Regions from separate parts of the Homo sapiens genome. Here region 1 is linked to region 2. A link means that fine-mapping ties the variant in region 2 to the expression of a gene that starts in the linked region. Tissue or cell type: whole blood. Region 2 holds a variant in brackets; the other region holds the start of a gene. Each region is shown on its reference strand, or each on the opposite one.

Region 1 (5,382 bases), not on the chromosome of region 2:
TACTATTGTATCAATATGATCACACCATGTCATATCATATTATATTATATCATATATACACATATATATGTATATATCATATATATACATATATATATGTTTAAAGACATATATATATGTGTGTGTATATATATATGTGTTTAAAGACAGGATCTTTCTATGTTGCCCAGGCTGGAATGCAATAGCTATTCACAAGTGTAATCATAGCACACTACGGCCTCAAACTCTTGGACTCAAGCAATCCTCTCGCCCCAGCCTCCTGAGTACTGGAACTACAGGCACATGCCATGATGGCCAGCCATACAATATATTTTTATTTGCTTGTCTATTTATTTATTTTCTATTCTCTCCCAAATAATATGCAAGCTCTAAGAGGACAAGGACTTTGTGTCTTTGGTCTCTGATGCTCAGAGAATATTTGTTGAGTGAGTGAATGAATGAATGAATGGTGGACATTCAATAAATAATTCGATAAATAAATAATTGGTGATCAAATGAACAAATGGGGCAGGAGTTCTAAGGGATCTAAATCAGACTGCCAGAAGAGCAGGGGTAAGGTGTGATCAAGTTTGGGAACCGCAGGCATGGAAAGAAAAAAGTTCACAGACACTATTCAGAACTTTTCGTGAGTGTGTTTATTAACTCTTACTCCCCACGGGCAAGGCTGGGTTTTGGTGAGGGAAAGAAAAGACCCTCATTGAGGACATTGCTGGGTAAAAAGCCTTCAGAGAGCTACCTACTCTTTGTGGGTGTGGTAATGGGCAGCCTTCAGCGCAATGGCTACCAGGGATATGAATTCTTGAAAGTCGACCTGTTCATCTTGATTAGCATCCAGGCCTTGGAATATTTCATCAATGACAGCTTTATCTTTGATATTCTAGGAAAAAAGGACAACAGAGACCTTGAGTTCAGAACCTCCACACAAGACCCTTTCTTAGGCCTCTTATCCCTCAGAGCTCGGGTTGTGAAGGCCCAGGCACATTAACTCATTAGCCAACACTGTGTTGGAGAATCCAGTGTAACAAAACAGAGAACACAATGGTCATGAACCACCCTGGAATTAACAAGGCTTGACCTGGAAGGTACTCTTCTGCTCACTCATTCAACCCCTCCCGTGCCCTGCCTCTCTCCATTTTACATATGAGGAAACAGACTCAGAGAGAGGAACTGAGTAGAGCCTTAAGTGAGTTATTGAGAGAGGGAAGCAAAGGACCTCTCCCACAGCAGCGGGGAGAGCATCCTTTGGGAGCTCAAACTGGGGCCAACCCCACCCCAGTCCTTGTCCCACCATCCTCTGCCAGGCCTTGCCACTCCCCTCAGTGCAGGGTCATGGGCAAGTTTGCAGTGAGAGGGGCATCACCTACCTTGATGGTGTTTGCAAGCTCCTTTGTAAGCAGCTGCTTCAGCTCACCCTTAGAGAGGGTGTCAAAATGCCCCTTCCGAACTGAGTATTGGTGGAAGATATTGACAATTCCCTCCAGATGCTCTTCAAGTTTTGTCATCTTCCCAGCCTAATGTTAACCTTCAAGGAAACAAGGGAAGTCTAGAGGCAGTTTCTCCCCCACCCCTCAACCTCCACTCTCCCCTCTCTTTCTGAATCAAGGGCCTAAAGAAAACATAACATCCTCCATATCTATTTTGTGGTCTCTGCTCTGTTTGATCCATGGTGAACTTCTCATGTGTGGATAGGATGGGGAGGAGAAAACATATAATACTGTCTAACGTCTAAAAAAATCAGCCTCAGTTGCCCATGTTCCATACCACCTCATCCACCGGGGTGCATAACTTGGAGGGTATTGCTTACTCAAGGTCCCTTGGGAAGGGTTCTGTGATTGGCCAGGCTGTTTGCTTTCCTCAGGTGATGGCACTATGGCCACATATCCCCCACAAATGGTCCATAACCCACCCCTGCTTAGCCATTCTTTTTTTGTTGTTGTTGTTTTGGGTTTTTTGTTTGTTTGTTTGTTTGTTTTTGAGACGGAGTCTCACTCTGCCGCCCAGGCTGGAGTGCAGTAGGGCGATCTCGGCTCACTGCAAGTTCTGCCTCCCGGGTTCACGCCATTCTCCTGCCCCAGCCTCCCGAGTAGCTGGGACTACAGGCACCCGCCACCACGCCCGGCTAATTTTTTGTATTTTTTTAGTAGAGACGGGGTTTCACCATGTTAGCCAGGATGGTCTCGATCTCCTCACCTCATGATCCGCCCGCCTCGGCCTCCCAAAGTGCTGGGATTACAGGCGTGAGCCACCGTACCCGGCCTGCTTAGCCATTCTTAAATCATGGGACTGAGTCTACATAGCACAACAAGAGCTGATCTACTTGGGTCCAAAATGCAATATCACCCCAGAGGTGCTCAGGCAAGTGGAGGGTTGTGGTTTCCAACACCTTGTGATTTCAAAGTGGTCACCTGCAGTCACTACCCTGTGGACCACCTAAGAACCCATCCAAGGAAAATGCACTTACCCCTCAATGCACAGGAATGTGGAGCTACAGCAAAAAGCCAGCAGTGGTGAAGGGCACTGAGCCAAGGAAGGTTTTATAATCAGTTCAGGCTTCATCTTAGCCCTTGGGTGAAGAAATCTCTGATTCATCTTGAGGCAATTTATGTAAAGTACTCTGTTGCTCAATAGAAGCTTCAAACCTGTGGCTTAGGCTGCCACAGGAGCAGCCCAGATTGTACCCAGACTGAATTTTGCCCTCCTGCTCAGCCTGAAACAAAATCACCCCCACTCCACCCACCCGCACAGGGGTGCCCTGAACCTTTTTTAGCCCTGAGCCAGGGCCCAGGTTTCAGGTTTAGCTCTACTCCACTGCTCCCTAATAAAAGACTAGGAGAACAAACTTTACAGCCTGAGTGTCTTGTTTTAACAGATGAGGTTACCAGCTCTTCAGTTTTGGCAAATGGAATATCAACTTAAAGATCTTTATGCAGCTAAGGAGATAGGTAGGGAGACCTCCTCCTAAGTCGTTCTGGGATGCAAAGTTCATCACTGGAGCAGAGGATCAGTTTTCAAAATAGATTCCAAGGTTTTCAAAAAAGGAGAGAGCAATGCTACTATGCCTCCCCTTTGCTTTCCCAACTTTCTAACTTGGCTGTTACAAAGACCTAGAAAGCTGGAGTAGGGTAATCATTGTGTGTGAAGAAAGTTCACCATGCCTAGGTTACTTTACCATGTTCATGAGTTCAGTAAGACAGAACATTCACACGAGTTTTAGTAAAGCAACTTTATTACTCACAGAGAGGCAGCAAGGGACAACAGATGCCCAGGATTCATGGAGAGGTGGTCCTTCAAGATTCAGAAACCTGCCCAAAATGGATTAAGTCTCATCTGTACATTCCCCATGTCGCACCAAAGCTAAGGGACATCCAAAAGCACTCTGCCCTTGGTTTATGCCTAGAGGTCAATAAGATTGCTGAGCAATCAAGGCCATGCCAGAACCTGTGCTGCCATCTACCCCACAACACAGATATCCCCCTTAGCAAAGCTAGTTCATTTCATGTGCCCACCGACCTCTCTGGATCTGGAGGCAAAAGTCTGTCTCTCCGATCCATGTGTCACCTTGACTGACACAATCTCAGTGCAACATTGTTAAGCCATTGACAGTATTTGTTTCACTAGGCCCAGGAGGACACCACCAGAGCAGGATGATCAGGCTTGTGTAAATCAATGACAATGACCAAGGTGAATCTCAATCATTTTAGGAGGTTTATTTGGCCAAAGTTAAGGATGCGTGCCCAGAGGTAGGTCTACGTCTTTCTCCAAAGATGATTTTGAGGGCTTCAATATTTGAAGGAGAAACAGTGGATATTGGGGGAAGAGGAAGAAATATTTTTTAAATGTGTCAGTAGATAAGAGACAAGTGATTGCATCCTTTTGAGTCTTTGATCAATCTTTCACTGAATACACAATTTTCATGTGGGAGCGGAGTAGAGGAAATAGTCACTTATGCCTTCATCTGGCTCAGTGAATCTGCATTTTTACATAAGATAACAAAAATAGGGGAGAGGAAGCAATCAGATATGGATTTGTCTTGGGTGAGCAGAGGGATGACTTTATGTTCTGCCCTTTGTCCCACACCTGTGAAGATAAGCTGTCAATTACACTGCCAGGGTGAAATTCAATAGAACTGTTTTAGGGTAAAGATCTTGAGGCTCACAAGGAATTTCCTTGTGGGCAAGTTGTGAGATTGGTGTATGGCTTTTTATCTTTGTAGCTATCTTATTTAGAAACCAACCTGGGTGGGGGCAGGCTTGCATGACCCATTTCCCAGCTTGACTTTTCCCTCTGGCTTAGTAAGTTTGGGATCCTGAGATGTTTTTTTTTTTTCACATCTGCCTGGAGAAGGGACTAGCCCAGGATCCCAGCCATCCAGGCAAGAGGTTGCTAAATGCGGATCACGAGGTCAGGAGATCGAGACCATCCTGGCTAAGATGGTGAAACCCCATCTCTACTAAAAATACAAAAAATTAGCCAGGCATGGTGGCAGGCACCTGTAGTCCCAGATACTCAGGAGGCTGAGGCAGGAGAATGGCGTGAACCCACAAGGCGGAGCTTGCAGTGAACCGAGATCGCGCCACTGCACTCCAGCCTGGGCAACAGAGTGAGACTCCCTCTCAAAAAAAAAAAATAGAAATCAAAAAAGCAGGAACACAGCCTCACATACAAATATTAACCTCCAATGTGAATGGCCTAAACACTGCACTTAAAACACATACCTTGGCAAATTCGATTTAAAAACAAGACCCATCCTTCTGCTGTCTTCAAGCACCTGTCTCATGTGTAATGACACCTGTAGATTCAAAGTAAAGGGATGGAGAAAGATCTATCATGCAAACAGAAAACAAAAAAGAGCAGAGGTTGCTATTCTTGAATCAGATCCGATAGACTGTAAGCCAACAACAGTAAAAAAGGATAAAGAAGGGCATTACATAGTGATAAAGGGTTCGATTTAACAAGAAAATTTAACCATCCTAAATAAATACACACCCAACACTGGAGCACCCAGATTTATAAAATAAGTACTTCTGCATCTAAGAAAAGATTTTGGCAGCCACACAATAATAGCAGGGGACAACACCCCACTGACATCAGTAGACAAATCATCAAGGCAGAAAACTAACAAAGAAATTATGGACTTAAATTTGACACTTGACCAATTAGACTTAATAGACATCTATAGAACAATGCACCCAACAACCACAGAATATATATTATTTTCATCTGCACATGGAACATACTCTAAGATCAACCACATGCTCAGTCATAAGGCAAATCTCAATAAATTCAAAAAAATCAAAATCATACCAAGAATCTTGGACCGCAGTGGAATAAAAATAGAAATCAATACCAAGAGGAACTCTCAAAACCACACAAATAAATGGA
Region 2 (5,382 bases):
CGCCGCTGGCTATCCTACTGCTTCATTCCGTCTCGCCGCCGGCGAAAACCGGCCCCGGGGCTTACCGCGGGTGGGCGGATCTTGCAAATGCCCGATTTCTCTGCGATGGGCCTGATTTTCGCGATGTAGCCAAGAGGGTCTCGGAACTCGGCCCAGCTAGGCTCGAACACCGGGCACTCCGGTGGCGGTAGGAAATCGTCGGACCCCGGCTCCATGGTGGGCCCGAGGTCTGGGCCAGGGATCGGGAGGCTTGGACCGCCCTTAAGGACTCATGGCGCCGCCGCTGTTTGAAGCCGAGGCAATGCTCGGAGGCTAGGCCCTAAGCGGGGCAGCCGCCGCCCGCCGAGGGCCTAAGGGGGCGTGTGGCCGTCGTGCTCTGAGAGTCTCAGGCTGACTCTACTGCTACCGCCTCTTCGTCCCGCTCCGTTTCTTCCAAACTGTGTGGTTGCCTCCCCACTACCGCAGCCTTCGCCACCACAGTTACCTCCCAAACGCCGCGGCCTTCAGCGCCGCCGCCGCCATCTTGGTTTGTCAGCGTCTCCCCTCCCCACACCACAACAAACCGGATCCTTCCGCGGGGTGTCCTTCCGAGCCTCGTATACGTTGCGTCACACCAAGCCCTAGGAAACCTTCATATAGTGGAGACCGAGCTAAATAGGCTGGTATGGGTTTCTATTTGGAAGGGGTTACTCAAAAGTACCACCCCGGACTGAGAGAAAATAGTTCATTGCAACGGCGGAGGAACAAGATTGTAATTAGTTTGCCGGATCGTCTTTCCGGATGGACCGGCGGTGCACGTTTAAAGGCCAGTGATGCGCATGCGCGTTATGGAGACCGGAAGAGGAGCTGGTGTCCGTGGGTGGTGGAGTCAAACCGGCACTCCCCCGCAGACCTCAACCAGGTCGCTAGCCCCGCACCAGTGTTCTCTGTCCCTTCTCCCTGGTCTTAACGGTATGGGCCGCGGAAGGCGGCTCTGGGAGCCTGATTGCAAAGGACCCCTTATGCTGGCCCGCGGGATGGGGGGAGATGTACTAGGCTCCAGCTCTAGACACTGACACCTCTGGGGCTTTGAAATAAGGAAGGCAGGAAGCTGCTCACTCCCCGGGGATTATGGATTTTTAGGATTCTGAGTCCCAAGTAAAGGAAGGAAATCTTTATTTCATCCAAGGTTACAGGTAGAGAGATGGGGTTTCGATTCTTACCCCCCAAAAGTCACTGGGAGTCAGCATTTTAATGAACGCTTTCAACTGTTCTGTATTCACTTTTACCATGTACACATTTGTGGCATATACTCCTACAAAATAAGCCTGTGTGTATGTATACTTTAACTATTGGATGTTTAGCAACGGCGTATTTATCCAGTGTCAACTGTGTAAAACACCTGTTTGCCCATTTGTGAGCCTACAGTGCACTTACCAAACATCCGTGTACTTTTATTGTATTTATTGTGTATAGCCCCTGTGCATTTGGTACCAACTGTATGTACATTTAGTCCTATCGTGTGCATGTTCCTTGAGCAGTTTCTGAATAGGTTCATTGCAACTACAGTACTTTGAATGAGTATCATCAAACCAGTACTTTGTACATATACATCAGGCATCTACTGATTGGAGGATCATCTGTGTCATTCATCAGCTGTGGACCTACTGCATATAGTTTGAACACCTACTGTGCAAATATTTGAGTACTTGCGTACATGCTGATTAAGTAATTTTGTTTTCCCCCATCAGACTATGAATTCCTTAAGGGCAGGGACCATGTGGCCTTATACATCCTTAGCACTTGGCATGTTAAGCAGTAAATGAATGTTGAGTAAACAAAAGAAAAATGAATAAATGTCCTTAGTATATATTGACTGAAAAATATGAATACTTTTTGCAAACATTTCCTGTTTAACATATTAAACATCCACTGTAAGCTCGAGGCAGATAGGGAGTGTCATACCTTCGTGCAGTTAACTGTTCCTAATCAGATACTGTGCCAATTAGGTCCATCCTGCCTACTTCAGGACTGAGCTAAGGACATCCTGGCTGAGGGAACAGGGCACACAGGTAGGAAGGAGCTCATGCCCTGGGCTCAAAAGAGTCATGCCTTGCAGTCCCACCAGCTCTGCCATTTTCTAGTTTGTAACCTTGAACAAGTCCCAACTTCTGTAACTGAAATGGGGATAATACATACCTTGCAGAATTGTTGTGTACTTGGCACATAGCAGGCCCTCAGTATCTGGTAGCTGTTATTTTTATTTCTGAGAGTCAACAACCAATATGCCAAAACTCATTAAGAATCTCCTTTGTGTCAGACACTGTGCTAGTGCTTTTGTATTTTTTTTTTTATCACCTGAATCCTTATATTACCTTGAATGTTCAAGATCTTTATCCCCACTTGGCTCGTGTGGAGACTTGTCCCAAGTGACACAGATATTAAGTGACATCTTTCTAGTTTTCTAGGTGTCAGGGGAAACCTCAGCCCCTCTCCACCAGAAACACAGGTGGATGATCCAACTGAACAGCTGTCTGGACAGGAAGCAGGAAAACTAGGCAAAGTGATGCTAATCACAGTAATATCACTAGCCTCTCACATGGATAAGCATCTAATTGCCTACATGGCTAGTTCATACCAATTATTTCCCTTAATCTTTGCAACAGTCTTCAGAAAGATGTAGGTGAATTTACCCAGTCTGTAGATGAGGAACCAAGTTCCAGAAAGATTAAACAACTTGCCCA[A/G]TGATACACAGGAAGTTGCTGACTCTGGTCAAATGCTCTTCCTGTCGTTTGCCCTCACCAGGAGTGGAGGAGGTGAGGGAAAAGGGAGCTGCTGGGGTGGGAGGTAGAGTGGTGGGGCAGGGCCCAGTCCTTGGCAATATGGGGCATGCAGGGCCTGGAGCTTGGACTGCCCATCGGGCAGCACCCCCAGGCCACCGTGGCTGTGACCGTGATGGTGGTAGTGGTGGTGGTGCGTGGAAGAAACAGATGAAAAGGAGGCAGAGGCCTGGCCAGAGAAGGGTGAGGAGAATCTAGAAGGTGGGAGAATACGGTAGATCTTAGGCCGAAGGAAGTTCAGCCTTTCCATCTAGAGGCTCAAGGAAGTACAAAGAGCATGAATCAGGAATCAGGAGGCCAGATTTTGGGTCTCAGCTCTGCACAGTCTTCCTACAGCCTTCTTTGAGGTCCTTTAGCCCAGACACACCCGTCCTAGAAGATTAAATAGAAATTATGTAGTCTTTGAAGCCAATGAGATAGAATTTATTCGTTTACAAATATTTATTAAATTTCTACTATGCACCAGCAAATTTTCTGGGCACTGGGAATATAATGGTGACCAAGACAGATGTAGTCTCTACTTTCCTGGAGCTGACATGCACCCACTGAGATCTGCCAAGTACCTCATCTTCCTGAGCCTTGATTTTCTCCTTTGTATAATGAAGCTAAATAATCCCTTCCTCACAGTGTTGTTAGGAGGATTAGAGATAATGATGACTGCCATTCATCAAGGGCCAGGTGCTATGAAGTAGGTATTGTTATCCCCATCCTACAGATGAGGAAACTGAAGCTCAGGGAAGTGTAAACTTACTCAAGTCACATGGCTAGTAAGTGGCAGGACCAGAACTCAAACCCAGGTCTGTCTGACTGCCGTACAATTCTGCCTGTAAGAGTCTCAGATGGTGCTCCCCATGTAGTAAGGCATTCAGGAAATGGGTTTGTTCCCCAAGCCATGGGTCTTGCTGGGGGACAACCGGAGTCTAGACGCTGGGGACTTAAGAATTGGGATGCATCAGGAAACTCACTCCAGGCTGGGGGCTGGCTTGGCCTCACCCATCCACCCGGGAGACAGGGTCTGACATGGAGTTGGTGCAGAGCAGTGACTGGAAGGCTCGTCTGGGCTCAAAACCACACGCACCCCATTCATGTTTTGTGGATCAACTGGGCTGACACTGACTTTGTGTCTCACTTTTTTTGGTTTGTAAAATATGATCTCTTCCAGTTCTGAAGTAGGTTTAAGCTGTTGGTTCTGATTCCTAAATAGCTCTAGAATCCATCCCCTCCTCCTTGCCATCTTCCACTCCTCCTGTGAGCCTTTTACTGTCTCTAGCCTGGACTCTTAAAAGAGCCTCCTCAAGGTATCTGTGTGAACTCATGGTTTATTAGACAGAGACAGAGAAATATCGATGTCTAGTATAGAAATATAGATGTATAGTATGTGCTTATACATATACATAACAATAAAATGATTTATCCAAAGTAATGTTAATTCAAAATGAATTATGATAGTAGTGGATTACAACTCACTGGTTAAAATAAAAATCCATGACTCCACATTGATATAAGTAAATAAAGTGAGAGAAAAGGGAAAGTAGAATTCTAAATTATATAGAAGGAATGATGGAGCTAGAAATCATCAATGGATGCTCAAACCTTTGCAAAATAAAAGAGCAAGCTCTTAAAATATTGCTGTAACACCTAGTGCCCAAATCTTGGTTTCTAAATGTCATTCTCTACTAAAAAGAACCGGGGCTCCTTGGAAGGGCTCAGAAAAAGATGGAGATGTGCCACAGGACACAGGGGCTTAGAGGGCTTCCTACTGGCCAAATCTGGGGCTGTGAACATCAAAATAAAGAATGATGTTAATGGGTTATATATAACCCATTGAGTAAAATAAACAATCATTAAGTCCATAAGGATATAAATAAATAAATGTAGAAGGGAAAGCCCTCCCTTATAGTGGAAAGCCAACTAAGACATGCCCAGGCTGGGGGCAGTGGCTCATGCCTATAGTCCCAACACTTTGGGAGGCTGAGGTGGGAGGACTGCTTGAGGCCAGGAGTTTGAAACCAGCCTGGGTAACCTAGCAAGACCTCCATCTCTACAAAAAATTTTTAAATTAGCTGGGCATGGTGGTGTGTGGCTGTGGTCCCAGCTACATGGAAGGCTGAGGTGGGAGGATCGCTTGAATCCAGGAGTTCGAAGCTGCAGTGAGCTATGATCGCACCACTGCACTGGGCAATGGATGAGACCCTGTCTCAAAAAAGAAAAAAAAAAGACATATTGAAAGAATGACGGCATTTGAAAATCACCATTTGACAGCCTCAGCCATAATAATTGTTCCAGCGAACGCTAAAACTAGTGAGTAAAATTTAAGGAGTAACAACATTTCCATTCATGTCTCCACAAGATACTCATCCACTACAACGGGGAAAGTGGTAACTTTACAGTGCAGGTACTAGATAGCCCAATTTGTTATCTGGTCTTACTTTAGCTGCTGCTGAGGCCAGCGTGACAAATCTGTTGGCAACAGAGTAACAGGGAGTGGCTGGGGAGACCCGCCTGTCTCCACGCGGTGCCATGTGCTGTGCCCACCGCTGGAGCTCCAGCTCCCATTCCTTTC

The links. PIP is the estimated chance that this variant, and not a neighbour inherited with it, causes the effect.
Region 1: S100A12 starts here. The variant in region 2 is fine-mapped to the expression of S100A12 in whole blood (TOPMed, PIP 0.97).

The regions. Positions count from the first base shown.
Region 1 is chr1:153,373,091-153,378,472 of GRCh38, forward strand. S100A12 (S100 calcium binding protein A12) reads right to left here and starts at 2,531. Exons shown (of 3, transcript NM_005621.2): 1 at 2,462-2,531; 2 at 1,365-1,522; 3 at 621-877. The coding sequence starts at 1,502. The coding sequence ends at 737.
Region 2 is chrX:53,224,675-53,230,056 of GRCh38, forward strand. KDM5C (lysine demethylase 5C) reads right to left here and starts at 533. Exons shown (of 26, transcript NM_004187.5): 1 at 66-533. The coding sequence starts at 215. It also overlaps a transcript of IQSEC2 not described here. RefSeq lists enhancers at 75-174, 415-794, 633-927, 805-854. The variant A/G (reference allele first, on the strand shown) is at 2,724.